Linked DNA regions of Homo sapiens: regions 1, 2, 3, 4 and 5 are each linked to region 6. Evidence: fine-mapped expression QTL. A gene starts in region 6. Each other region holds a variant in brackets. All regions are shown on one strand. Distances are between the middles of the regions.

Evidence for each region. PIP is the estimated chance that this variant, and not a neighbour inherited with it, causes the effect.
Region 1: its variant is fine-mapped to the expression of PTP4A3 in whole blood (TOPMed, PIP above 0.99).
Region 2: its variant is fine-mapped to the expression of PTP4A3 in T cells (TOPMed, PIP above 0.99). The same link has a PIP of 0.9 or more in blood mononuclear cells and whole blood.
Region 3: its variant is fine-mapped to the expression of PTP4A3 in whole blood (TOPMed, PIP 0.94).
Region 4: its variant is fine-mapped to the expression of PTP4A3 in blood mononuclear cells (TOPMed, PIP above 0.99). The same link has a PIP of 0.9 or more in whole blood.
Region 5: its variant is fine-mapped to the expression of PTP4A3 in whole blood (TOPMed, PIP 0.93).

Annotation. Positions count from the first base shown.
Region 1 is chr8:141,342,223-141,346,322 of GRCh38, reverse strand. It overlaps LINC01300 (long intergenic non-protein coding RNA 1300), which reads right to left. Exons shown (of 4, transcript NR_024441.1): 2 at 3,847-3,982; 3 at 3,108-3,365; 4 at 1,702-1,979. Among named protein-coding and RNA genes, the nearest start is that of LINC01300, 3.7 kb to the right of the region's middle. RefSeq lists enhancers at 1-476, 3,650-4,100. The variant A/G (reference allele first, on the strand shown) is at 2,511.
Region 2 is chr8:141,412,936-141,417,035 of GRCh38, reverse strand. The region is part of intron 1 of PTP4A3 (protein tyrosine phosphatase 4A3); the gene reads right to left. Among named protein-coding and RNA genes, the nearest start is that of ASTILCS, 22 kb to the right of the region's middle. RefSeq lists enhancers at 1,343-2,302, 784-4,100. The variant T/G (reference allele first, on the strand shown) is at 2,131.
Region 3 is chr8:141,442,968-141,447,067 of GRCh38, reverse strand. It overlaps LOC105375789 (a long non-coding RNA gene), which reads right to left. Exons shown (of 3, transcript XR_928722.3): 1 at 1-4,100. It also overlaps MROH5. Among named protein-coding and RNA genes, the nearest start is that of ASTILCS, 52 kb to the right of the region's middle. The variant G/T (reference allele first, on the strand shown) is at 1,887.
Region 4 is chr8:141,357,120-141,361,219 of GRCh38, reverse strand. GPR20 (G protein-coupled receptor 20) reads left to right here. Exons shown (of 2, transcript NM_005293.3): 2 at 3,273-4,100. The coding sequence starts at 3,297. Among named protein-coding and RNA genes, the nearest start is that of GPR20, 8.1 kb to the left of the region's middle. RefSeq lists enhancers at 1,047-1,643, 3,494-4,100. The variant G/A (reference allele first, on the strand shown) is at 2,058.
Region 5 is chr8:141,285,307-141,289,406 of GRCh38, reverse strand. All of the region lies in intron 1 of SLC45A4 (solute carrier family 45 member 4), which reads left to right. Among named protein-coding and RNA genes, the nearest start is that of SLC45A4, 21 kb to the left of the region's middle. The variant G/A (reference allele first, on the strand shown) is at 2,077.
Region 6 is chr8:141,390,448-141,394,447 of GRCh38, reverse strand. PTP4A3 (protein tyrosine phosphatase 4A3) reads right to left here and starts at 2,427. Exons shown (of 6, transcript NM_032611.3): 1 at 2,364-2,427. ASTILCS (antisense transcript of PTP4A3, liver carcinoma survival associated) reads left to right here and starts at 1,827. Exons shown (of 2, transcript NR_187488.1): 1 at 1,827-2,040; 2 at 3,297-4,000. RefSeq lists an enhancer at 2,735-3,355.

The DNA.
Region 1 (4,100 bases), 48 kb after region 6:
TGCACTTGTCGGGGGAGCCAAGAGCCCCCACGGCCATCCATGGTCCTCAGGTTAAAAACCTCATTCATCACCTGTGAGCCCAGAGAGGTCAGAGCCCCCCACCCCGAGTCACACAGCCTGGCAGCCGAGACCGCTGTGTGGGCAGGAGTGAGAAACCAGCCTGAGGGCTCAGATGTCCTGACAGGCAGTCCTGAGCATTGCCAACCAGATCACTGGCACCTGCCCCAAAGCCGGTGGCAAGGGAGAGAGTGCTTGGGTGTGTGTCACTCGGCGGTCTCTGGCCCCTTGGGTCAGGCAGAGGGGACAGGCCCCACCTGTAGGGACAGAGGGAGACAGTGACAGTGTCCAGTAGACCCTGGCCCGACAGCTGGGCCACGCCCCTGCCTGTGTATCCATCTGCCCCACTGTGGTTCAGCTGAGGGTGGACTGGCCTGGCAGGTGGGCACAAGGCCCGGGCCCCAGATTCCTGGAGAGGTCGGTGGGAACTCCTGTCAGGGGGCCCCAGGGAGCGGGCAGTGTGGCCACTGGGCCCTGACACCCTCTGGGGAGCCAAGGCAGGGCCAGGCCAGGGGTCTTTCCAGCCCACTCCCGCTCCCGGGCTCCGAGTCGCCTGCCAGCTGTCTCACTTCCTTCCTGTCCACTGGCCCGCAGGCCACCTGCTGCCACCTTCTCCAGCACTTGCTCTGCCTCACCCATAGGCCTTTGCTGGACTGCGGGAGGCCGGAAAGATGGAAACAACTCCAGAACCCCAGAACCTTGATTCTTTTTGTTTGTTTTTAGTTTTGAGGCAGGGTCTTGCTCTGTCGCCCAGGCTGGAGTGCAGTGGTGCAATCACAGCTCACTGCAGCCTTGACCTCCTGGGCTCAAGCGACAGCCACCCTCACCCCAATGCCCACAGTAGCTGGGACTACAGGCACATGGAACCATAGTCAGATCTTTTTTTTTTTTTTTTTTTTTTTTTTTACTTTTAGTAGAAATGGGGTCTCAACATGTTGCCCAGGCTGGTCTCCAATTCCTGGGTTCAAGGGATCCTCCTGCCTCAGCCTCCTAAAGTGCTATAATTATAGGCATGAGCCACTGTGCCTGGCTGATTCTTTAAACCAGGATTTGAAATCCTTTCTTCATATCTTGTCCCTGCAATAGCTAATAGTTCTAGAACCTTCTATCCATTCACTTCCCTCTTCCCCTGTGGCATGACCCCCACAAGTCTCTCACAGAGGAAGCCTCAGGCCACAGTGCTTACCAACGACCCCTCTAAGGGGACAAGTTGGGGGCCAGCCTGAGGGAAGGGGCTCCCACTGTGTCTGTGTGGGAGCCCTTGGGAGACGATGCTGGCCCAGCAGGGTGGGTTCTGGGCCTGTGGGGGAAGGTGGAGATGCCACACCTGAGAGCCAGCCCAGGGGTCCGTGGGGCCACAGGTGCAGGGGAAGGTGGACAGGACGAGTGGTCAGATACACTGCCCACCCCTAGGGCCTACCTGAGCCCATGCTAGGTACGTAGTGGGGCTGTGTTTGCGGGGCTGGGACCAAATCCCAGGTCCAGCCCTTGACTGTTGTGTGACCTTGGAGCAGGTGAGTTCACCTCTGTAAGCCTGTTTGCTCCTTAGTAAAACAGCCATACTCACGCTAAATTCTTGGGTGGTTGAGATGAAATTGTGGGAAAGGGACAAGGCATTCAACTTAGCACCACACACAGCCCATCTATCATTCAGCAAGCATTTATTGAGCACCTACTATAAGCCTTGGCATGGAATCAGGATGAATGAGGGACAATCCCTGCCCTCAAGGAGCCCGCAGCTGCAATCCCGGGCAGTGAGGGCCTGTCGGAAATGTAAGCTGGGCTCAACTGCCTGCTAGAGAGGTGGGGAAGGCTTTCCGGAGGAAGTGACATTTAGCTGGGTTTTGAAGGATGCGTAGGAGTTTGCATCTGGAAGGGCATCTGCTGCAGCAGGAACTGTCGGGGCAGAAGTGGAGATGCGGCTGTGTAGTGGAAGCACAGAGGCACAGGGGTCACAGGGCCTGGCCGGCTGGCAGAGGAACCTCAGGAAGGTCACCTCCCCTCTCTGGGCCGCAGTTTCCCTGTCTCTAAATGAGGATAAGCGCGCCCGCCTCCCAAATGGGACAGTGGCTGTGGCAAGCGCGGGGTGAATGCTAATGTTCCCTATTTAATTTTCCATGTTCTGTTTTGAGGCCAGTCAGGGTTATTTCTGTCCACACTCAACTATTTCCAGGCCCAGAGTCCTCCTTTCCCACAGAGGACAGCGCTGGGCCTGCCCCAGCCCACTATCTACTCCCAGGCCGTGGTGGGAGGCCAAGGGCAGGGGGCACCTGGAGAAGAAATGCAGACTCAGGATGGATCAGAGGCAGGGTGGGGACCCAGCCACCCCAGGAAGCCCAGGGCTCCAAGGGCCCCGTTTGGTGTGCCCAAGGCCGAGCAGCCCAGTTCCAAGCCCCTTTTCCAGGTGAGGTGGGACGGAGGCTCCCATGTAGTCAGGGGAAGAGAGCAGAAGC[A/G]TTTACCACACCCCCCAGGACTGCCCCGCTGCTGCCCGGCCTGCCCAGGCGAGGAATCTCCCCATCCCCACAGCCACAGCCTGGTGTGCCCCACCCGGCCTCCTCCCTGTTCTCTCAGCTTCCCGGTTCCCACCATCACCCCCATTCTGGCCCAAGGGGCTGACCCTGGGGTGTGACATCAGGGAAGACAAGAGGTGGGGTTAGGGCGCTGCCTGACCTCCTACAAAACAAGCTGCCTTCCTGGTAGCCCTGGGCAGCTGGCCCAGGGATGGCCCATGGGGGCCCCGCCCTCCAGCCAGGTTACCTGCTGCTGGCCAAGAAGCTGGGGTGCTCTGGGCTGCCTCCCTGTCCCTTCTGCAAAGCCCCTGATCCCCACAACCTCTCTCCCACCCTGAGAGCCTGCCGGGGGTTCCTTCCTGGCCATCCCTGGGCTCAGCCTCCTTGTCGTGGGGCACAGGATTGGGTGGCAGGAAAGAACAGGGGGGGCTGGGGCTGGGGCACAAGGGGGGCAGGGAAGAGACACAGAGTGGAAGGTGGGGAGGGACAGGCACAGCTGGAGACGACAGTGTGTGGGGGCTCCGGGCAAACACATCTCACCTCCAGCCCGTTCTGAGCAATCCATCAGTGTGGCTGCCCCTGGAACGTGCGGGGGCACCAAGGCGGAGTTGCAGAGGCTGTTACTGATATGTGTCGTGGGGTGAGTCGGGGTGGGGGACGCATATCCCCACTCAGAACTCTGCATCGTAGATCCCATGCGTCTTGACACCTTCGTCTGCTAACATCTAGAAACCTTAGCATTTGAGAACCTTCAGATCCAAGGGTTCTGAGAGCTTAGAATTGTAGGATTTGTGAATTCTAGAAACAAAGGCAAGAAGATCACCCGTAGGGTGTCTCCTCTGCTCATGCAGCCTGGAGGGACCTCTCGGTGATCCCCGGCCGACCCCTCCCCAGCACTCAGCCCAAGAACCAGCCTCAACCACCTCCCTTCCCAGCTCAGCCTCACCTGCTGCCCAACCTGCAATACCTCCTCCCATCTCCCATCCTCAGACAGCCCATCCCTCCTGCAAGGTCCAGTCCGAAGTCGTCACCTCCCCCAGGAGGCCCACCCGTCCTCCTCAGCCCAGCCTGACTCTCAGGATCAGGCTCACCCTGCGGAGGCTGAAGCCACCAAGTCATAGTCCCAGTCCCAAGGGGAAGACAGGCCTGGAGCAGGGAGAGGTGTGGGCAAGAACACAGCCTCCGTCCCACAAAGAGGAGTTCAAACCCCCGCTCCAGCCCAAATGGCCCGGGCAGTGCCCTCACTCGTCTGCTTCAGCAGCCTCACCCGACTACTCACGATGGCTGCAGGTGGAAACTGCCCACGCATCTCTCAGCAGCTGAAAGGATGACTCCACAGTGGACGATTACTCAGGTGTAAAAAGGAGCAAAGCACTGGCACATGCGATAATGCGGAGGGACCTGAAGCCACCGTGCTAAGTGAAAGAAGCCAGACACGAAAGGCCACATGGTGCTCACACCTCCAGAGATGTCCAGAACAGGCAAAGCCAGAGACAGAGCACAGACGTGCTAGCCAGGGCTGGCTTCCTTGGA
Region 2 (4,100 bases), 23 kb before region 6:
ACCACCCACTCTGTGCCCGCCCTGGCCACCCAGGGCCCTCAGAGCAGGGTGGAGCGGCAAGGGTGGTACCCCCAGCACAGGGTCCCTGGAGGTGTGGCCCTGCTTGCAGCTCTCAAACAACCTGGTCCCTGCAATCTGAGGTCATCAAGGGGCCCAGCTGAGAGCACGACCCCCCCTCCCCCTGCCAGGCTCTCCCCACCCACACTTCCAGAAAACATCACCATCAGCCTGGCCCAGCTGTGCCGGCAACCCTCGCCTCCTCCCACCTCCAGGTGGGCAAGCAGGCTGGGGAGCAGAGGACAGGAGGGCTGTGCCCAGTCTGAAGGGCCCCATGGGAGCCTCCACCCAAGGGCACACCAAGCCAGGTAGCCCTGCCTGCCAGCTCATGGACCCCCAAGGGTGTGAGCTCCCTGGCAAGGGCACCCACCCACGTGGGTGCACCCAGCTCCACAGGGAGACGCTAGGCTCTGACTCCTGCCCAGTGCTCTCAGCTCACCACTTCCAGCAGCGTCTCCCTGAAGGTTGAAGGCAAGAATGGGTCAGCTTCAGGGACTCTGCCCCACCAATCTCCAACCTCAGCCACTTTCTAAGGATACCAGGCTAGACACTGCATTCCACAAGCAAGACACACACCTGCCACACTGCACTGACAAACCATAACAGCACAGAGAAGCTGAGCAACCCTTCTGAGTCACACAGCCAGAAGGCAGAAAAACCACATTTGGAGCTGGGTCTTGCTGCCCCCGAGACCCTGCTTATCCCCACCCTAGCCCTCTGGGAGAGAGGACCTCTGGGGTAAGCTGCTCCTGCCCCCCAGCCTCAGTTTTCTTATCCATAAAAGGGGTCTCAGAGTGAAAGTTCCCATCAAGCTCTGTGATGCTACAACCAGACAGAGCCCGTCGCCTCTGGCGCTACAAAAGTGGACCCCAGCATCCTCATCACCCCCACCCGGGCTCCACCCCCTTGCCTGGGGCCCTCTGGCCGGGCCTGGGAGGCACCTGCTGCAGCTGGCACAGCCCCAGGCCTTTCGGAGAAGTCTATTTATAACCAGGCAGGAGCCGTTCCTGGAATCCTCCCAGAGCGGGCCCAAGTCCGCCCATTGCTAGGGGGGCCAGGAGGGGAGACCCAAGCAGGCCAAGCCCACGCTTGATGCACTAGGACGCCTTCCCGGAGTCCTCCAGGCCCCTGCACTCGGCAGCTCCAAGGGCCCAGCCTCCTCACTGCCACATCCCCCCATGCCATCCCATCCCCTCTCCCCACCCCACCCCACACCCTCTCCCCACCCCACCCCACACCCTCTCCCCACCCCACCCCACCCCAGTCCCCACCCCACCCCATCCCCTCTCCCCGCCACGCCCCCTACCCTTCACCACCCCTGCCCCCTGCCCCCCCGCCCCGCCCCCTGCCCCCCGCCCTCCGCGCACGTCAAAAGGGCCCACCCGGAGTCATGTGGGAGGCGGGGGCGCGGGGCTGGGCACTCCCCCGAAGGATCCCGGAACGCTCCGGCTGGGGCCTCGAATAGGGACCGGGGCCGCAGGGTCCCAGGGCTGCGGCGGGCACCCTGGTCCCGGCCAGAGGGCAGGAGGGTCCCTCCAGCGCTGGCCTGGGCTCTGGGGCCCACGGGGGACAGGGCGGTCCCTAGGGCCCTGTAACAGCGGGAGCGAGCGGGAGGGGGCGGGAGGGGGATGGCGCACGGAGACCCAGGCCCTGTAGTTGGGGTGGGGAAAGACTGGGGGCTGTCCAGGGCTCCGGCCTGTCTCCCCACTGCCTGCTGCAGGCTGGGAAGAGGGTCCCAGGGCCCGTTCCTTGCCGCGCTGGAGGGAGCCTCACTGCATCCCCACCACTTCCACCTGCCCACACAGAAGGGCCCGGACCCTGCAGCCTGCCCCGGCTTCACTCCCAGGTGGCAGCCCTGGGCTCAGCAGGCCCTCACTTCATCCTGTTGTCCCCATTTCCTCCAGGAGGAAGTGCAGGGAGACAGGGGAGGCGACTCAGTGGACCCCACCCAGGCCCCCCGCCACCCACACCCAACCCCCACCCCATATACACAACTTCTAACATAGTTCCTTCCGCAGGAAGTGGGAACTCCACCAGTGGAGGAGGGGCTGTTCCTGCAGTCCAGGGCCCGGG[T/G]CACTTGCCCCTCCCCCATCAGGATGCTGCCCTAGGCCTGGTGATATCAGGAGGGGGCGGAGCCCTCGTACCTCACCCTGGAAAGGATGAGGGGGCGTCTCTCAGGCCAGCCCAGCCCCCAGGACTCTACCTCCTGGGGCAGAGAGCGGTCACTAAGAAGTCCACCCTTATCCCTGCTCCCCCCAGCCACCAAGACAGCTGCGCCATAACTCACCACCCCCTGCCTAGGCACCCGATCCACCTGTGCCAGTCTGGGGCTGCCCAACAGTCCCTACCCCCCCCCCAGTCCAGGGCTCTTCCCAAGCTCAGTGCCCGCATTCTCCTCAGCCACCTGCCCGAACCTCTCCTGCTCCTCAAGACCCCGGCCAGGTGCAGAGACTCACACACCTGCCACCAGGCTGCTGCTCCCACGTGCCCTCTGTCTGGCTGCCCTTCTCTCTCCCTACCGGGCCACCTCTTCCAGCCTCCCAGTGAGTGAACCTCCCCTGCCCCAGCCACCTTCCACCACTACAGTCCCAGAAGCCAGGTCTACCCACCAGGCTGGGCCCCCAGACCCTAGGGCCACACTCGGCCCCTTTTGATCTCCCCATGGGAGGATACAAATCTCAGGGGATTATTGTACACAAATGGCCTAATGTCCAGCGAGTGGACAGGACAGCTCCACAATGGCAGGCCAAGTCGGTGGCTCAGACAGGACTCCCAGTCCAGTGCTCATGCCTTACCTCCCAGGATGACTGAGAAGCCAGTGTGGAAACCGCCCAATGGGAAGCTCTGGCAAGCACACACACTGACCTGCATACACAGAGATGTGTGCTCACGTGCACACACACACACACACACACACGCCACAGAAACAGATGACCAGATCAGATGCCTGTGCCGGGAAGATGGGGACCCCATTGCCCCGCAGCAGTCCAGCCCCACGACGCCCACCAGAGCCTCCAGGGACACCGTGAGCCCGAATCCTCCATGTCCTCCTGTCCACACAGCATCTTTACACCAAGAGCCCTGAATCCTCCATGTCCTCCTGTCCATACCGCATCTTTCATCTTGCCTGGAAGGCCTCTGCCCAGGCTGGAAGGAGGATGGCACAGCCACACCAGCTGTGGACCAGTCACTGCCCTCCCTGCGGCAACCCTGACCCATCTTGGAACAGACACAGCTGGACTCCTGAGTGTTTCCAAAGCCATGGCGTCTGTAACATGCAGGTTCCCAGGCCACACCCAGACCAGGTGCCCCACTCACATGCGCACACGTGGCCCCACCTTGCCCTGGGCAGGAGGGAGCCGTGTTCTGACGGCCCTAACCCTCCCTGCCCCCAGCCTCCCACCCCAGAGCTCTGTTATAACACACCTGCCAGCAGCAGCTTCCGTTAAGAGCCAGTCGCTCTGGAGTACGGGGTGTTGGGTCGGAAATTGTGCGGCTCCAGGATTCCAGACAGGAGGAAGCCCACATGAAGCCTGCCCTGGCCCTGGCATTAGGCCTGCATGCCCACGGTCCTGCTGCCTTCCTCCTGGGCCCCATTTAGCCAGTGCCATGCCACCCACATCCAAGGCCCCTGAAGGCCAGTACCCAGAAGTGGGCATGGTGTCCCGGAGGGCATGGAGTTTCATTCGGAGCTCACAGCCTCTGAGAAGGAGCCTCTCCCCGCCCCAGTCCCTGAGGCCCTGCCAAGAATGCAGAGGCCCCCAGCAGGCCCAGAGGAGGCCCCTGATCTGGCCTCCCGGAGAGTTCAGGGCCTCCCTGGCACACCAGGCACAGCCCCTACCCCTTCTGTGCCACACACCAGTGGACCCTCAGCAGACACAGCTGACTCCAGGGCAGGAACCGACCCCCAAGCTCTCCAAGGGTCCGCATGGCCTGATGGTCCCTCCTGCTGGCCGGAGGAGGCTGCCCAGGAAGGTCCTCACCCACCAGCATCAGCCAGAGGCCCCAAAGTGGTCCACAACAGGGGAAGGGCATGAGGCCAG
Region 3 (4,100 bases), 53 kb before region 6:
GCTCTACAGATGAGGCAACTGAGGCTCAGAGAGGGTCAGAGGCTTCCCCTGGGCCACACAGCATGTCCATGCAGAGGCGAACTGGGCTCACCCATGGGGCAGATGCCTTTCCATGCCCTCTTGGGCATCTCATTGGTCCTCAGCACATGCTCAGGCTGACATCACGGCCAGTTGCCCGCTCCCCCGCCCACCGTATTCTGGCCTCAGTAGGGCTGCCTGCCTTCATCTTCCCTCTGCACCAGGTCATATTTCCAAAAATCCAATAAGCAAGTCTAAAAACCGCTGGGGCCAACTCTTTTCATTTGTTTGTATTATGATGTGCGTCACGCAATTTGTCAGTTTTAACAGCTCTCCCCAAGGCAAGTCACTTAAAAAAAATGCCACTTCTTCTCATCTTGCCTCCGAATTCAAATGTGCACGAAGTTCCTTTTTTATTCAGTTCAACCATGCAAAATGCATGAATCTTTCCTAATAAGCTAATAAAACCTTCTCCTCCCGGAACGTGGGAGGGTTGGGAGAAAGCCTCACCCCGTCTGCTCCTCCCCCTGCTGGAATGTTCTTCCCCCAGCCATCCTGTCTCTGCAGGCTCTGCTCACCCGCACCTCACTGAGGCCTCCCCCACCACCCTCCAAAATAGCAGCCCCTTCGGCGCCTCCCACCCTCTGCTGCTTTATTCTCGCCGCAGCCCCGCCATCAGCTACCATCTGTGATCTGCGCCTTTTACCTGCTTTACTGCCCTCACCCATAGACTGGAAGGTCCCGAAGAGCCAGAGACATCTGTCTGTCTCTCGCGGGCTCCCCATACAGCAAGGACGTCTGTCTGTCTCACTGGGGGCTCCCCATACAGCAAGGACGTCTGTCTGTCTCACTGGGGGCTCCCCATACAGCGGGAATGTCTGTCTGTCTCACTGGGGGCTCCCCATACAGCGGGAATGTCTGTCTGTCTCACTGGGGGCTCCCCATACAGCGGGAATGTCTGTCTGTCTCACTGGGACCTCCCCATGCGGCTGAGACATCTGTCTCTCGCGGGTTCCCCCACCAGCAAGGACGTCTGTCTCTCTCAGGCCCCTCATACAGCTGGGACATCTGTCTGTCTCGGGCTCCTCATACAGCTGGGACGTCTGTCTATCTCTCTTGGGCTCCCCATACAGCTGGGACGTCTGTCTATCTCTCTTGGGCTCCCCATACAGCTGGGACGTCTGTCTATCTCTCTCGGGCTCCCCATACAGCTGGGACGTCTGTCTCTCTCGGGCTCCTCATACAGCTGGGACGTCTGTCTGTCTCTTTCGGGCTCCTCATACAGCTGGGACGTCTGTCTGTCTCTCTCGGGCTCCTCATACAGCTGGGACGTCTGTCTCTCTCGGGCTCCTCATACAGCTGGGACGTCTGTCTCTCTCGGGCTCCTCATACAGCTGGGACGTCTGTCTCTCTCGGGCTCCTCATACAGCTGGGACGTCTGTCTGTCTCTTTCGGGCTCCTCATACAGCTGGGACGTCTGTCTGTCTCTCTCGGGCTCCTCATACAGCTGGGACGTCTGTCTCTCTCGGGCTCCTCATACAGCTGGGACGTCTGTCTCTCTCGGGCTCCTCATACAGCTGGGACGTCTGTCTGTCTCTCTCGGGCTCCCCATACAGCTGGGACGTCTGTCTGTCTCTCTCGGGCTCCTCATACAGCTGGGACGTCTGTCTCACTGGGGGCTCCTCATACAGCTGAGACATCTGTCTCTCGTGGGTTCCCCCACCGGCAAGGACGTGTCTCTCTCTCGGGCTCCCCATACAGCTGGGACGTCTGTCTGTCTCTCTCAGGCTCCCCATATAGCAGGGACTTCTGCCTCGCGCGGGGCCACGGGTGGTTTCTGCTCAGGCCGCTCCGGGCAGGTTCTCCTG[G/T]AGCCCTGGAGGTGGCCCCGGCAGCTCCCGCAGCCCCAAGAGAAAAAACTCTCACCACGGGCACAGTCCTGGGCTCTGATTGGCCTAGCTTTGCTCACATACCCAATCCTGAACCAATCACCTTGGCCACAGGGGCCTGTGCGGCTCTGACTGGCCAGGCCTGGCTCCCACGCCCTCCAGGGAGCGGCATGGGCCCAGGCCTCTTCGACCACCGCGAAGGGGCCCAGGCTCCGGTTGCCAAACCAGCAGCCATGCCACCCAGCACCACCACGGAGCCAGGGAGAAAGGGAGGCCTGAGAGCAGAGTGACACCCAGGTGTATCCCGGTGGCTCACGGTCTGAGGTCCCTGCCAGGCTGCTGTGGCACTGTCAAGGTGGGGACAGGGGCCCAGAAGGACAACTGGATGAGCAGTGCTGAGTAGCCACTCTCTCTGCATGCCCAAAACGGTGGGGGCGGCACAGGACACCATGGGGCAGCAGGGGAGTCTTGAGGCCTGATGGGGCCAGCCCTGGGCCTCTGAAGTTCTCATGTCCTGCTTAGATGGACAGGCCTCTGGGACCAGGAAGCAGCGAGTGGGGTTGAGCAGGGCACCCTTCCCTGGGCAGGACTGCAACAGGTGCTGCCAGGCCTGCCAGAGGGGCCTCCCTCTCCCCTGCTCCTCCACTAACAAAGCCTTTTCCTTAGAGATGTTTCCTGCGTTGGTCAGTTCTCAGCTGGGTCCTCCTCCAGCCAGTCTCCACCCTGCCCCACAAAGGAATTCTCATTGTTCTCACACGTCATCCATGTGGGCCAACTCTATTTAATTCAAATGGGCTACATCGTTTCTCTTTATTTCGAAGGCACTCATCATTCTCACCCTCATCTCATCTTCATCTTTCCCTCTGTCCCCTGGGGATTTGGGGCCAAAGGCTTGTGATCAAAAGAAGAGGAGGAACTTCACACCCATTAGGTTGGCTACTGTCCAAAAAAAAATCAGAAAATGAGTGTTGGCGAGGATGTGGAGAAATCAGAAGCCTTGTGCACTGTTGGTGGGAATGTAAAACGGTGCAGCTGCTTTGGAACAGAGTATGGAAGTTCCTCCAAAAATTAAATATAGAATTACCATATGGCCCAGGAATTCCACTAATGGGTGTACACCCAAAAGAAAGGAAAGCAGGCACCTGGGACAGATATTTGTACGCCCTGCTCACAGCAGTGTTATGATAACCAAAAGGTAGAAGCAACACAAGTGTTCATCAATGGGTGAATTAGAATAAGCAGTGTGGTCCATCCATACAATGGAATACTATTCAGCCTTGAAAAGGAAGGAAATTCTGATGCTACAACATGGATGAACCTTGAGCACATTCTGCTGAGTCAAATACTGTGTGAGTCCACCTACTTAAGGTCCATGAGTAGCCAAATCTACAGAGACAGAAAGTAGAATGCTGGGTGCCAGGGGCTGGATGGAGGGAGAATGGGGAGTTAATGTTTAATGGGGACAGAGTTTCAGTGTGGGAAGATGAGAATGTTCTGGAGATGGATGGTGGTGATGGTTGCATAATATTATGAATATGCTCAATGCCACTGACCTGTACACTTAAAACGGTAAATTGTATGAGATGTGCATTTTACCACAATTAAAAATAAAACCAGAAGAGGAGGAGGTAATGGGAGAGGGAAGAGGGTCTCATGGACCCTCAGGCTGGGGAGGAGTATGGAAAGCAGAGGGGCTTTGCCTCCTCTTTCTCAGGTGCCTTTGCCCTCTCCGGGGCCAGAGTGGGGAAAGGACGGTTGGTCGAGTATGGGGCAGGCATCACTGGGATGCCAAGTGTCCAAAGAGGCTGCAGGCAGGCAACGACGTTGAGACCAGCAGGAACGGAGGATGGTTCCTTGAGTCCACAGCGAGGCAGAGACTCAAGGGGCTCCACCTTCATCGGTCTTGGGACTGCGTATGGATTTCAGGAGACACATGTCCTTGAGCATTGCCGGGGGTCCTGGGCTGGAGGTGGTTTTGTGTTCTATGGACCTGCAGGGGAGTTGGGCATGGATTCCCAAGAATGCTGAATCAGCCCATCTTTCTGGAAGCCCTGCTGGGGCTGCAGGGACAAGGCAATCTTGAAGAACAAGCCAATACAGTGCCCAAGAAGTCACAGGACCAGAAGCTTCTGGAGTCCTCCCAGAGCAAACAAAATGCCACTCCCCCCACCAAGTCCCCTTCTTCTGAAAACCATT
Region 4 (4,100 bases), 33 kb after region 6:
GCTGGCCTGGGCCAGTGGAAAAGAGAAACCTCCCAGCCCTGGCACAGCCTCCAGGCCCTGAGCCCCAACACCATGTCAGCACGATCAGGACACGGTGCCAGTCCCTGCCCATGAGACTCTGGCCAGTTGGCCCCCGCCATGGAGTCTGCTGTCTCAGACAGACCCAGGGTGCCTGCCAGGAAAGAGGGAGGAGACAGGACCATCTCCCCCACACCCAGGTTTGGCTTAGGGAAACTAGGCTTGGGGACAGGGCCCTGCCTCCCCTCTCCGGCCGGCTCTGAGGGTAAAACCATGCCTCTCCCCTCAGTCCAGGCTACCAGGGCGAGGCAGAGCTGTGGAAGGCACGAGTGACCCCATTCAGCAGATGAGGACGGCCAGCCTACTGACCAGGCCCAGGTCTCAGCTGAGGGAGTGGCAGGGCTGGACTCAAACCCGGGTCTCTGTGCTGGTGACTGCTCATCACCCGGGCCCTCCGGAGAGCAGAGTCTGTGCCTCTCCCACAGGCAGAGCCAGGCTGTCCCAGGAGGGGCGGAACCTTCTCCTTTCCCCAGGCACTCGCCAGGGAGCCACTTCCATGGGCCCCTGCAGGGTCTAGAGTCCCCGCTTGCATTCCTCCTCCTTCTGAACAAAGAGGGTGGTGAGTGGGAGCCCCAGAGAGGCCCCGTAATAATCGAATCGGGACATCCGTCGCTGTGGGAGGCAGGTGGGGGTTGACAATATGGAGACAGAGACAGCCAGACGAAGCTGGGAGAGGAGGGCAGAGACAGGGACAGAAGGTCCGGGCTGAGGGCCCAGGTCGTGGCTGGGATCAGGGCTCAGAGCGCCACAGGAATCAACGCCCATTGTGCTATTAGGATTGGGGTCAGTGTGTGACCAGGGTCAGGGCTCAGAGTGGGACAGGGATCGAGGTTCATCACATTACTGGGATCATGGCTCAGTGTGTGACCAAGATGAGGGTTCAGCTTTGTTTGAGATCAGGGTCAGACCCTTAGTGCGGGGAATCAGAGCATGCTTTGCTAGCTCCCTCTCCTCTCCGGTCTGGCCTCTGGGGTGTCCAGCACATTCTGCCCATCCCCCCAGCTCCAGAGACCGCAGAGCCCCCACATCCCTAGCCAGGACCCCAGCACCGCAGCGTTGCTGGTGAGCCTGCTGGGCTGGCCCTGGGGAGTTTTCTGGGACAGCAGAATTCCCAGGGGCCAGCATCACCCTGGGACTCACTCCCACAGGAAACGTTCTGTGTTGTTTATGATTTGTCTCTGATTGGGACACTAATATAGGCCCCGTGCAGACAAATTGGAAAAGCAAAAGGCACATAGAAAGGAATCCCAAAATACTTTTTTGGCCATGCAGTCCCTCAGTCCAGCTGCAAAGCCGCCTCGACCTTTTCTGAGAGCGTTTCATCCACAGCAGGGGAGGGACGCATCTCTTTCGGGGGGACCTTCTGGGGCTCCTGAAGCCCACAGCCCTGAGACGCCAGGTTCCCAGCCCCCATGTGCCCAGCCTCCTCTCCTCCCCTGGCTGCCTGCTGTGCCCCCAAATCCCGTCTCTGGTGGCACACCTGGGCTGAGGGAGGACAGACCTATTCATCCAACAAATGCACCCATCAATGCCCGCGTGTCAGGGCCTGGAGATAGAGAGCTTGCTTGCAGTCGGGGGGAGCTGGGAGCTGAGCCTGGGCCCTTGTGTGGTGGGGGTGGCAGGAGGGGCTGGGCACAGGCCTGGGCAGCACTTGACTCCTCCCAGCAGCCTCCAGGGTAGCACGCACCCAGGGCTGGGGTCCCAGAGGCAGAGGGCATGCTGGGTGACCTCATGCAGGCACTGACCTCTCTGACTCTGAGGAAGAAGGTGGCCGCCGACTGGAGGGACCTGGCCCTCTGAAAGCAAGAGTTCTTTTGCTGCCCTGAGCCAGGCCAGGGGCTGTTTGAAGGCAGGGCTCATTGTTCCCCAGGGGTGGGATGGGGCCACGCACTGGTCAGAGGGAGTGGCGGGGCACAGCCTGTTTACAGCAGGGGCCACCAGGAGGGGAAGGGGTAAGTGTCCTCCCTTCTCCAGCAGGT[G/A]GGGGAGGGGCGCTGTGCAGAAGAAACGGCCCACGAGCCTCCCCACCCTGCTGGCCCCAAAGACTTCTCCTTTCTCCTGAAAAAGCCAGAAATGCCCTTATTTGGAGGGTCAGCCCAGCTGTAGGGTGGGGGTAGGGCCGTTAACCCTTCATTTATAAATAGAGGGATAAATCACTGCCGAGTTAAACACGCCAGGGCAGGAACATAAACAGAGTGGGTGGCTCCGGCACAGCCCCTCGCCCGCCCCCCACCCTGGCCCCCCTGCCCAGGCCAGACGGGAGCTCGGTGTTTATTTGACTCACACTCTGGCTCCAGGCTTCAGCCCCAACCAGCCACCCCACAGGGGCCTCTGTCTCCTTTTCTGTAGTTTGGGGGGATCATAGGGGTGCCCGCCTCTCAGGGCCAGTAGGAGCCTGGGGTGCCCAGTGAGACTGGTCCTTGGCTCCCATGCAGCCCCACTGGACAGCCTAATTCCCTTTGTAAAGGTCCCTCATGAGGACCCCCATCCAGGGCATTGACCTGATGCTGGCCTAGGAGGAGGGGAGAACAGATGGGTGGTCCCGGAGGATGGGGGCCATGACGGTGGGTGTGGGGACAGGGGAGTGGGCAGGGCAGTCAGAGGTCCCCACCATGAACAAGGCTCTGTCCCAGCAGAACTGGGTCATCAGCCACCAACTCTGCTGGCGCTGCCGTGCTGACCCGCTTGCTTAGTCACCCCAGCAGCAACGCGATCCCAGTGACATGGATTAGGAAGCAGGTAGAGAGGTTAAGTGGCCTACCCGAGCAAGCACACTAGTCAGTGGCACAGCTGGGGCTGGAGCCAGGCCCTGGAACTGCACACTGGAGCCCCGTGGTCTTGCCCTTATCAGCTCTCCATCCCGAGGACAGCCCTGCACCGCACGTGTTTCCGCCTCCCCCTCGTGCCAGGACGGTCGCAGAAACCTCCGTATTTTGTCGAGTCTCCACGCTGGCAAGTGCCAGTCCTGGAATTTGAACACGCGTCTGACTCTGAAAGCCTGTGCCTTTTCTGCTGCTGTCCGAGGCTCCCTCTGGGTAGAGCCAAGGGAGCAGGCATTTGAGGCCCCAGCCAGGCGAGGGCATGGAGAAGGGGGATGCTGGGCGTGCAGGGGCAGACGGGCCAGCTGAGTTCTGGGCCTCAGGGCAGGGCTTAAGGCCAGGCTGGCGCCTGGGGTGACCTGGTCTCCTTGCTTCCAGGCCTGGGGTGTGCTGGCTGCCGTCATGCCCTCTGTGTCTCCAGCGGGGCCCTCGGCCGGGGCAGTCCCCAATGCCACCGCAGTGACAACAGTGCGGACCAATGCCAGCGGGCTGGAGGTGCCCCTGTTCCACCTGTTTGCCCGGCTGGACGAGGAGCTGCATGGCACCTTCCCAGGCCTGTGGCTGGCGCTGATGGCGGTGCACGGAGCCATCTTCCTGGCAGGGCTGGTGCTCAACGGGCTGGCGCTGTACGTCTTCTGCTGCCGCACCCGGGCCAAGACACCCTCAGTCATCTACACCATCAACCTGGTGGTGACCGATCTACTGGTAGGGCTGTCCCTGCCCACGCGCTTCGCTGTGTACTACGGCGCCAGGGGCTGCCTGCGCTGTGCCTTCCCGCACGTCCTCGGTTACTTCCTCAACATGCACTGCTCCATCCTCTTCCTCACCTGCATCTGCGTGGACCGCTACCTGGCCATCGTGCGGCCCGAAGGCTCCCGCCGCTGCCGCCAGCCTGCCTGTGCCAGGGCCGTGTGCGCCTTCGTGTGGCTGGCCGCCGGTGCCGTCACCCTGTCGGTGCTGGGCGTGACAGGCAGCCGGCCCTGCTGCCGTGTCTTTGCGCTGACTGTCCTGGAGTTCCTGCTGCCCCTGCTGGTCATCAGCGTGTTTACCGGCCGCATCATGTGTGCACTGTCGCGGCCGGGTCTGCTCCACCAGGGTCGCCAGCGCCGCGTGCGGGCCATGCAGCTCCTGCTCACGGTGCTCATCATCTTTCTCGTCTGCTTCACGCCCTTCCACGCCCGCCAAGTGGCCGTGGCGCTGTGGCCC
Region 5 (4,100 bases), 110 kb after region 6:
TTCACTCCAGATGACTGTCTGTCATAGATGGAAGGGGTGAGTGAGTTAAGGGGAACTAAGGCGTGGAACTTAGGTTTTTGATCAGTGTAGGATTTAATGTCTTTCACTAAAAAGGACAAAAGTACAACCCCTGTTGGCTCCGAGTCTCCCAAGCAGCAGCCCTGTTTCTCACTCCTTCTCGAAAGTGCAGTGTGCACTCCCCCGCCATCCCCGCCTCTGCCCCTTCTGCTCTCGCCCTGGCCTCTGTGCCCACTGTTCCCTGGCACCGCCTTCTCCGATCATCCTCTTCCCCAGGCCCTGACTCCATCGCGCACCTGGCTGGTTTCATGGCCGGCTGAGGCCCTGCTTATTCCTCTGGGACCACATCTCTGCCTCTGCCTCCCTCTTGGGAGCTGGGTTCCTTTCCTGGACCTCTTTTCCCACCCACGCCGAAGGATTAGCGCCTCGATGGTACTGACTCATCTCTGACTGCAGTCCAGACTGCTCCCCAAGTTCTTCTGCTGTGCCAGCTGCCTGGCCATCTGCATTTGGACGGGGAGTCCCACAGAAAATGTGGCTGCACGGGGACTTGTGCCCCTTGCCCTCGTCTTCCTGTCATCTTTCCCAACCCAGCAGTGGCTCTGCATGAAGTAGCCAGGGCCGGCACCCTCCGTGAGTGCCCCAAGAGCATAGGTTCCATCCAGTCCCTGCTGTGTGTCCAGCACAGACCTCAGGCAGTGTGACCCCGCTCACTGCAGCTTGCTGGGCCCTGGCTGCCTCAGTCCTGCAGGACAGGACAGTGCCATAGTCAGTACACAGGTCCCTGGCTGTGTGAAGTAGGCCTGTAGGAGAAATTCCTGTGTGTAGACTAGCTGGGCTCCAGAAGATCTAACTTGGTGGGGCAAGAGAAGTGTGCTTCTCATGAGCGGTCCAACCAGGCGTGGTCCCCATCAGACACGGTCAGGGCTTTTGCCTGGAGCCTTGTCCCGTGGTGGGTCACTCTGTCGTATGTGAAAATGTGGCGTACCGATGCGCTTGCAATTTGCATTTCTCTTACTGGACGTGAGCTTGAACACCCCTAAGTGCCATTTGCATCTCCTTTTCTGTGAACTTTCTGTTTCTGGTGTTTGTGTGTTTTGCACTGAGCGGCCAGCCTTCTGCAGGTTTTGAATGAGCTGCACAAGGGCAGCCCTCGAGGCTCTGAAGGGCAGCGTGAATATGAATTCCCAGCCTGTCTTAAAAAATTTAAGACATACTCAAGCCTGTCGCCCAGGCTGGAGTGCAGTGTAGTGGCAGGATCATGGTTCATTGCAGCCTAAAACTCCTGGACTCAAGCGATCCTCCCACGTCAGCCTCCCAAAGTGCAGGGATTACAGATGTGAGCCACCACCAAAAAGGAGGCTGTTGACATGACATAGGCTTGAAAGGGGCAAGGAGGGTGGGAGAAACGTGGGGGTCGGTGCAAAGCCGTCTAGTCCCCCTCGGTGGCTGGGCGCAAGAGGGTACGAGATGGAGCTGCTCCTTCTCTGAGCCCCGTCTTCCTCCAGGTGCCCCTGGCCCGGGCCCTCCTGTGTGCTACCCTGTGGACTGTGCCCTGGGAGGTCTGAGAGCCGTCTCCTCACCGCCCCACTGAGGCCCGTCTGCAGATGCTGGAGATTCTAGCTGTTCCACCCGGCTGCCTGCTTCTGCCCAGCAGAGAGCCTGCTGTACCTTGGCAGCTCTTGAACGGGGTGGCAGGTGAAAGGAGGCACTTTTCACCTGTTATGGCCTAAAGCATTCTCTCGCTAGACTGAAAAGATGCCGCACAGAAGATCCTTTTAAGCTAAATACATGCTAGTGTTCACAGAAAAGACAGTACTCAACTGTCTGTAATTGTCCAGTCAGCCAAGGAGGCCAGAAGCCCAGCGTCCTGGCCATGGAAATGGGAAACTCCAGACTTGCCGTGAAGGGTTAACGAGGGACTTTGGGGAGAAGGCCGGTCTGTGGCAGGGGCACAGTCTGCGCTCCGTGCCCTGCGTGTGGGTTATTTCCTCTTGTGAAAACACCTGTAGTATCCAGGTGACCTCACCTATCAGAGCATCAGAGCAGCTGAGTCAC[G/A]ATGCTGTAGTTAGTATCCGCCGGGAGAGGTTTTCATAGCTGCGGTTATGTCTTCTGCCTGTTAAAATCAGTCTTTTGAAGAAAGCATGAGCTGTGCTGAGTTTATAGTCTGTTTATTATAGGTTGCTGCTGGGCTCTGAAGGCCTCTCTCTCATGATGATACACACACCTTCGTGTGTGGTTTTCAGTTGTAGAATGAAAGCGTGTAGAAGTGGAAGGAACCGGGAAGTGCTCTGTTCACACCCTAAGGCCTCGCACATGACCTGGAGCGGTCAGGCGACTTCCTCAAGGTCACACGGTGCTTGGTCGGCCTCAGATGTTTTCTGATAGTCTTAGGATTTGGTGATAAAAATACTAACTTGGATGAGTTCAGGAGGGAGCCCCGTGGCCGCCAGCAAGAGAACTCTGCAGCTCCTCCCCACTGCAGCTGACATTGAACTATGGAGTTATTTTGGTTGGCTTCGTTGTAAGGTTTAAAGTAGTTTGTGAAGAGCAGCTGCTTCTATTTTTCCCAAGTCTTGAACTTAACTGGGGGAAGATGGGGAAGAGGTTGGAGGCCGTGGTATGGGGTCGGTGGTGGGGAGCGGGGGGGCGGGGGGGCTGCTGCTGATAAGCGAACAAGTGGGAAAGAAGTTAAAGTTGGGGCCTTACCCATTCCTGGGGCTCCTGGCTGATAACAGGGGGTCACATTTCTGGGGGGCAGGCTCTGAAGAAAGTGTGAGTAGGAAGCAGGGTCAAATGCAGATGGGTGCAGTTACTCTTTTAAATATTCAATGGGGGAAGTACTTTTCTTGTGAAGTATAAATTCCTCGATTTGCACCTGCCCTCATCTGGAAAGGGTTTCAAGTGGTTTAAGTAGGGCGTGTGGGTAAAGGGTGCCCCGAAAGGGACCAGGAAGATACATTGGCAGGCTTCTGCGCTTACCTGGCTCTGCTTGTAACAACCGCGCATGTGAGGCCACCTCTCGGACTGAGTTTCCTGAGGGCACAGATCCCATGTCTCACGCAGGGTGGTGAGGGTGGAGGCCTTTTCTGAACATGCAGTAAACCACCACCGCCCATTCTCCTCAGCTCCCGAGGGAAGGAAGGGGTGTCACAAGCCCATACCTCACCTTCCCGAGGAGGGGCTGTGGGCACCCAGTGCCTTGGGCACCCCAAGGGCTGGAGCCAGGCCTGTCTCCCCTTGTGCCTTTTTGACTCCTCTGGGCATAGCTCACGACCAGGAAGTCCCCAGCGGAGGGGAGCCAGTGTGTCCTTGGTCCCTGCAATGCAACTGCCCACGCCTGTGGGGTCAGTAACAAGAGCCACAGAGCCACGAGGTGCCGCTCACGTCTGCCCCCACCCCAGGCAACCGCAGGCCCCTTCACGCTGCTGGTTCTCCTGAGGAACAGTGTCAAGGAGGTGCCCGGCCCTGTTCTGTTGTGAGAAGCACCACACAGGTTCCAGAGGTCTTGAGGGTGCCCTACTGGGACCATGGCTAGAACTCACGATCTCACATCTTTAGGATGCACTCGGGAAAGACTGAAAGCCAAGGATGTGTTCAGGTGCCCTCGGCCGGTCAGAAGGGGGCACGGGGCGTTTGCAGACCCCTGCCCGGTGTCGTGCTTTCCGCCGTGGGTTGTGCTCCTGCCTCTCAGTCTTGTCCTGTTGGTCCTCGTTATCCCAGGGCGGCGCTTCCCTAACTTGGGGTGCGCGTCTCTTTGGGAAATATGTTTAAACGGACGTGGCCGTGGATGTGCAGTGGGTGGAGTGCAGACCTCACAGGACTTGTAAAGATGCATTTGTTGGAGGCTGACTGCTCGTGTGCGGTTTATACCCCTGGTCTTGTCTGAAGTGGGGTCCTTCCGCAGAAAAACATGACACACCGTGACCTCGGGCCAAGTGCAAGGCCGGTCACTGTGGAGTGGGGATTCGGTAAAGATTTAGTGAAGGTCGAACCCGTGTAACTGGGGAGCACACGGGGGAACCACCTATCTTCCAACGTAGGCGAGGCCCCGTCATGGCGCAGGCCGAGGAATCTCAGCC
Region 6 (4,000 bases):
TGGAGGTGGGGAGAAACGGTGCTCTCGAGGTGAGAAAGCGCCCTGGGGTGGTCTGGGACAGTGACCATCTGGTTACAGCCTTTGGTCAGATTTGGGACCTTCATGGAACAAGGCAAGCCCAAGGTCTTGGGGGGCGAAAAATCACCACTATCTGCCAGCCCCAGGCCCAGGAGCTCCCAGCTCAGCCCCTCTGGCCAAATGCCACCTGGACACCAGCCTGGTACACTTTCCACTTAACTCACCCTTTCGCCAGGACCTGCCAACCAGGGAGAGGCCTCCCCAAGCTGTATCACCGCCATCTGGATGTAAGTCCCTAAGGAGGTCACGTGCATAGGCATTGGGCACCAGCGGACACTCTGCCCACCCTGGCGGTGAGAGGGAGGGCTCACACCAGCTTATGCCCCCCTCTCAGTCTGACTGTGTGCACCTCTGCCCAAGTCCTCAGCCAGTAAAGTCACGTCTGTGTAGCTTGGGAGTAGTTACACCACAGAAATTGGCCAATGCCAATTCAGGATTTGGTTAAGCATCTGTTAAGCATGCCCTCATGTCATCTTTGAGCCCAGCCACCCATGGTGCCTCCAAGACCTCCTCGCCATCCAAACTGCCCACTTGTCTGAGAAAGCTGCCCACCTCCCGGCCTTCCTCCTGCCTCCCATGTCCAGTGCCTGACTGCATCAGCCAGCCACCCTCACCATGTTCTGGGCTGTTACTTGGGACAGAGAGGGGACCAGCTGAGGCCCCCAGCCTTACTCCAGTGGTCAGCGCAAGCTTCCGGGAGGAGGGCAAAGGCAGAGAGGAGCAGGCAGCTGAGGAAACCACCTGGAGGCTGCATCTCATCCCCGCCTGCATTTTCTCCCATCACGCCGACTGCCTGCGGGGGCCTGTCCGCAACCTGCCCCGCTCAGCCAGCCAGCCATGCCCCATCTCCAGGTCCAGCATTGGGCCTGGCACAGAGTAAGTGCTTGGAGAACACGTTGGGGGTGTTGAGGGGTGACCAGCTCCCTAGCGGGGCTATTTGGAAACAGCCCAGGAATTCCTACACAGGGCAGCTTCTCCTCCTTCGTAACCACAGTGAGGGGGGCCGGCGTGGTGATGGGGAGATCCCCAATGCCTAATTCCACTCAGGTGACAGGTTCGGGGCCCATTTACAGCAGCTCCAACGCCCCCTTTGCAGATGGGGACAACAAGGCTCTGCTTAGCCCCGCAGGCTAGGGGCTGCACCAACTCCACCTTTGTGGGCCTCAGTCTCCTCATCTGAGAAATGGGGTTAACGAACTTCTTGGGAGGATTGCAGGAACTCAGTGAAGCACGGCTCTGCACAGGGCTGCCAGGCGGCTTCTGTCTGTGCAAGGCCACAGGCACCCTGTGTTCAGTGACCTCCTCTGGTCTGCAGCCGAGGACACTGCTCCAACCTGGGAGCAGGGCCCCCAGGGTCCACAGACTAGGTGGATGCCCAACACCCACCATCGTGTGCGGGGCACACCCCAGAGCCCGCAGGCAGAGAGAGGGGGTGCAGCACGTGCCTTTCTGTCTTGGCTGAGGGTGCCCGGGCACACACTGTGACCAGCTAGCCTGGACCTCACGCTGCCCTTGGAGCCGCTATCACAGAGGGCCAGGGAAGCCTCCCTCATAAAGGGCTTCCCTCCGGGAACCGGCAGGGTGAAACTGCTCTGCCCACTTGGAGCTAAGCATGCCACCACCCCACCCCTGGGCCACCAGCTGCCCAGGGGCGTGTCAGGAGTCACCCGTTTAATCCCTGAGGCACGTGGATCAAGGCTGCTGACCTGATTCTACCGGGGTGTGCTTGGAGGGCTGAGGCGCCGCCCGAGTCCCAACACTGGTATGGTCTGAGGCGGACTCCACCCGGCCTGAGACCTGACGCTCTGCTTTCCCCTGACCTCCACTGACATCTACGACCCGCCCTGGAGGCACGGAAGGCTGTGGGGTTCCAGCCCCCCAAACTGTGCAGCTGAGGAAAATGAGCCGTGAATGGGGGCAGAGCCAGATCCTGGGCGGGACCCTGCGCAGGATGAACTCAGGGTAGGAGGTCTCCCGCGCACCCAGAAACGGGAGCGGGTCACCCCCTTCCAGCCAGGGGTGTTCTGTGGCTCGCCTGGGGAAACAGCGGCCTCCTGAGGCTCGGCCCCGGCACGTGGCAGCCTCCAGGCCCACGTTCCCGCCGGATCGGCCGCCAGGCGCAGGGTCCCGGGACGCGCGGGCAGGGGGAAGGCGGCGGCCCTCCCGGCTGCGCGGCCCCGAAGCCGTGCCCGGAGCGGGCGGCGGGCTCGCGCGCGGACGGCCCCCCACGCGCCTCCACAAAGCGCCGCGCGCCCCCGCCCCGAGCGGGCGCGGAGGAGACTGACCTGGCGGTCCGGGCGGCGCCGGCACGACGGGTGGAGGGCTCGGGACGCGCGCGCCCTCGCGCACAGGCGCGGCCGCGGCTCCACCGGCTTAGGGCGCGCGCCGGACCCGCTGGGTCACGTGGGGGCACGGCCCAATGGGAGCGCTCCCCACGCCGCGGCCGCGCGCCCGCCGCCCCCGAGGCCGCCCCTGGGCTGGGAGGAGGCGGCTCCGGTCGCGCGGGCGGCCTCGGGGACTGACCTTGGCTCCTGTGCCTGCCGGGCGCCTAGGCCAGGTCGGCCTGGGGCAGGCGGGCGTCGGAGGGGCAGTTTTGAAGCCCGAGCGAAGAGGCAGAGGGCGGGATGCGGACGAAGCCAGGGAGTTCACGAAACTTCTGGAGTTCTCAGTTTCCCCCTAAGTCGACTGGGGCTAGGTCCCGTGCCGCCAGGCGGGCTGGCTGAGGGGATGGGCTGGGGCGACAAGACGGCAGCCGCCTGGCCCGGGTACTTGGGGTCAGACCGGCTTCGAGGCCCCCGGACCGCCGTGTTATCAGGACGGGTAGGGAGCCCACGGGACGCGTGGTGCTCAGAAGAGCGGGGAGGCGTGTGGACGGGGCCTGCCCGAGCTGCACCACCGCCTGCCTCCAGGCTGCGAGGCCCGCCCAGGCGAAGGCGGCATCTCAGCCTCTAGCCCTTGGGGACCTTGAGGACGTCCTCTTATGGGTCAGCCGTTCCTAGGGAGGCTTGTGGCTCCAGTTACTGGAAAAACCAGTGCTGGTTCACGCAGGAGGCCCCAGTACAGGGGGAAACAGAGGCAAGCTGGGGTCTCCCAGGCGGCCTCACCCACCCAGCCCTGTTCCATGCCAGTCCCTGGACCCTTGGCCCAGTCAGATGTTCAACTGCTCCAGCCCTGCCTCCACTTCCCTGAAAGATGCTTTTCCACCCATCCACCCTCAGCAGCCAGAGGGACCCCGGGAAGATGGGAGTGAGAGCTGCCTTCGTCTGCAAAAGTCTCCAGACACCACCTCACTGGTGAAGGCCAGAGACCCTAAACTGTCCCAAGACCACCTGACTGGGCTGCCTCCCTGCCACCTGGCTGCCAGCCTCTCTCAGAGCGCCTGCAAGCTATTCCTCCAACCCAGAGTTTCCTTCCCAGCTAAAGGCCTTTGCACCTGCTGTTCCTTCTGCCTGGAAGTTCACCGCAGACTATCCCAGGGCCTCCATCCTTCCCATTGCATGGTCCCCATCAGCTGCCGCCGCCTCTGAGAGCTCAGTCTCCACTGGCCATCCTGTCTCTCAGCCCACTGCACTCTCCACTCTGCCAGAAAGTCCCCCAATCAGTGACAACACAGGTCACGGTCCACACCTCACCTGGTTTGTCCCCAGTGCCCAGCATCTGGCACCGAGCAGGTGCGTGCAAATCCTGGACAGGTGGGCAAGCTGATGGTGTCCAGAGGCCCCTGGTCCTTAAGGGCAGGGGTGGGGATGGCTCAGAGGACATAACCTTGCAGACCCGGGTTCAAATCTGGGCTCCTCAGCTCATTTGGTCCTCACACAGCCCATGTTGGGAGAGCTAGTGTTCTCCCTGTTTTGCTGATGAGACACAGAGAAGGTCAGCAACTCCCGAAGATTGCCCAGCAAGTTGGGAGTAAAGCTGGTGC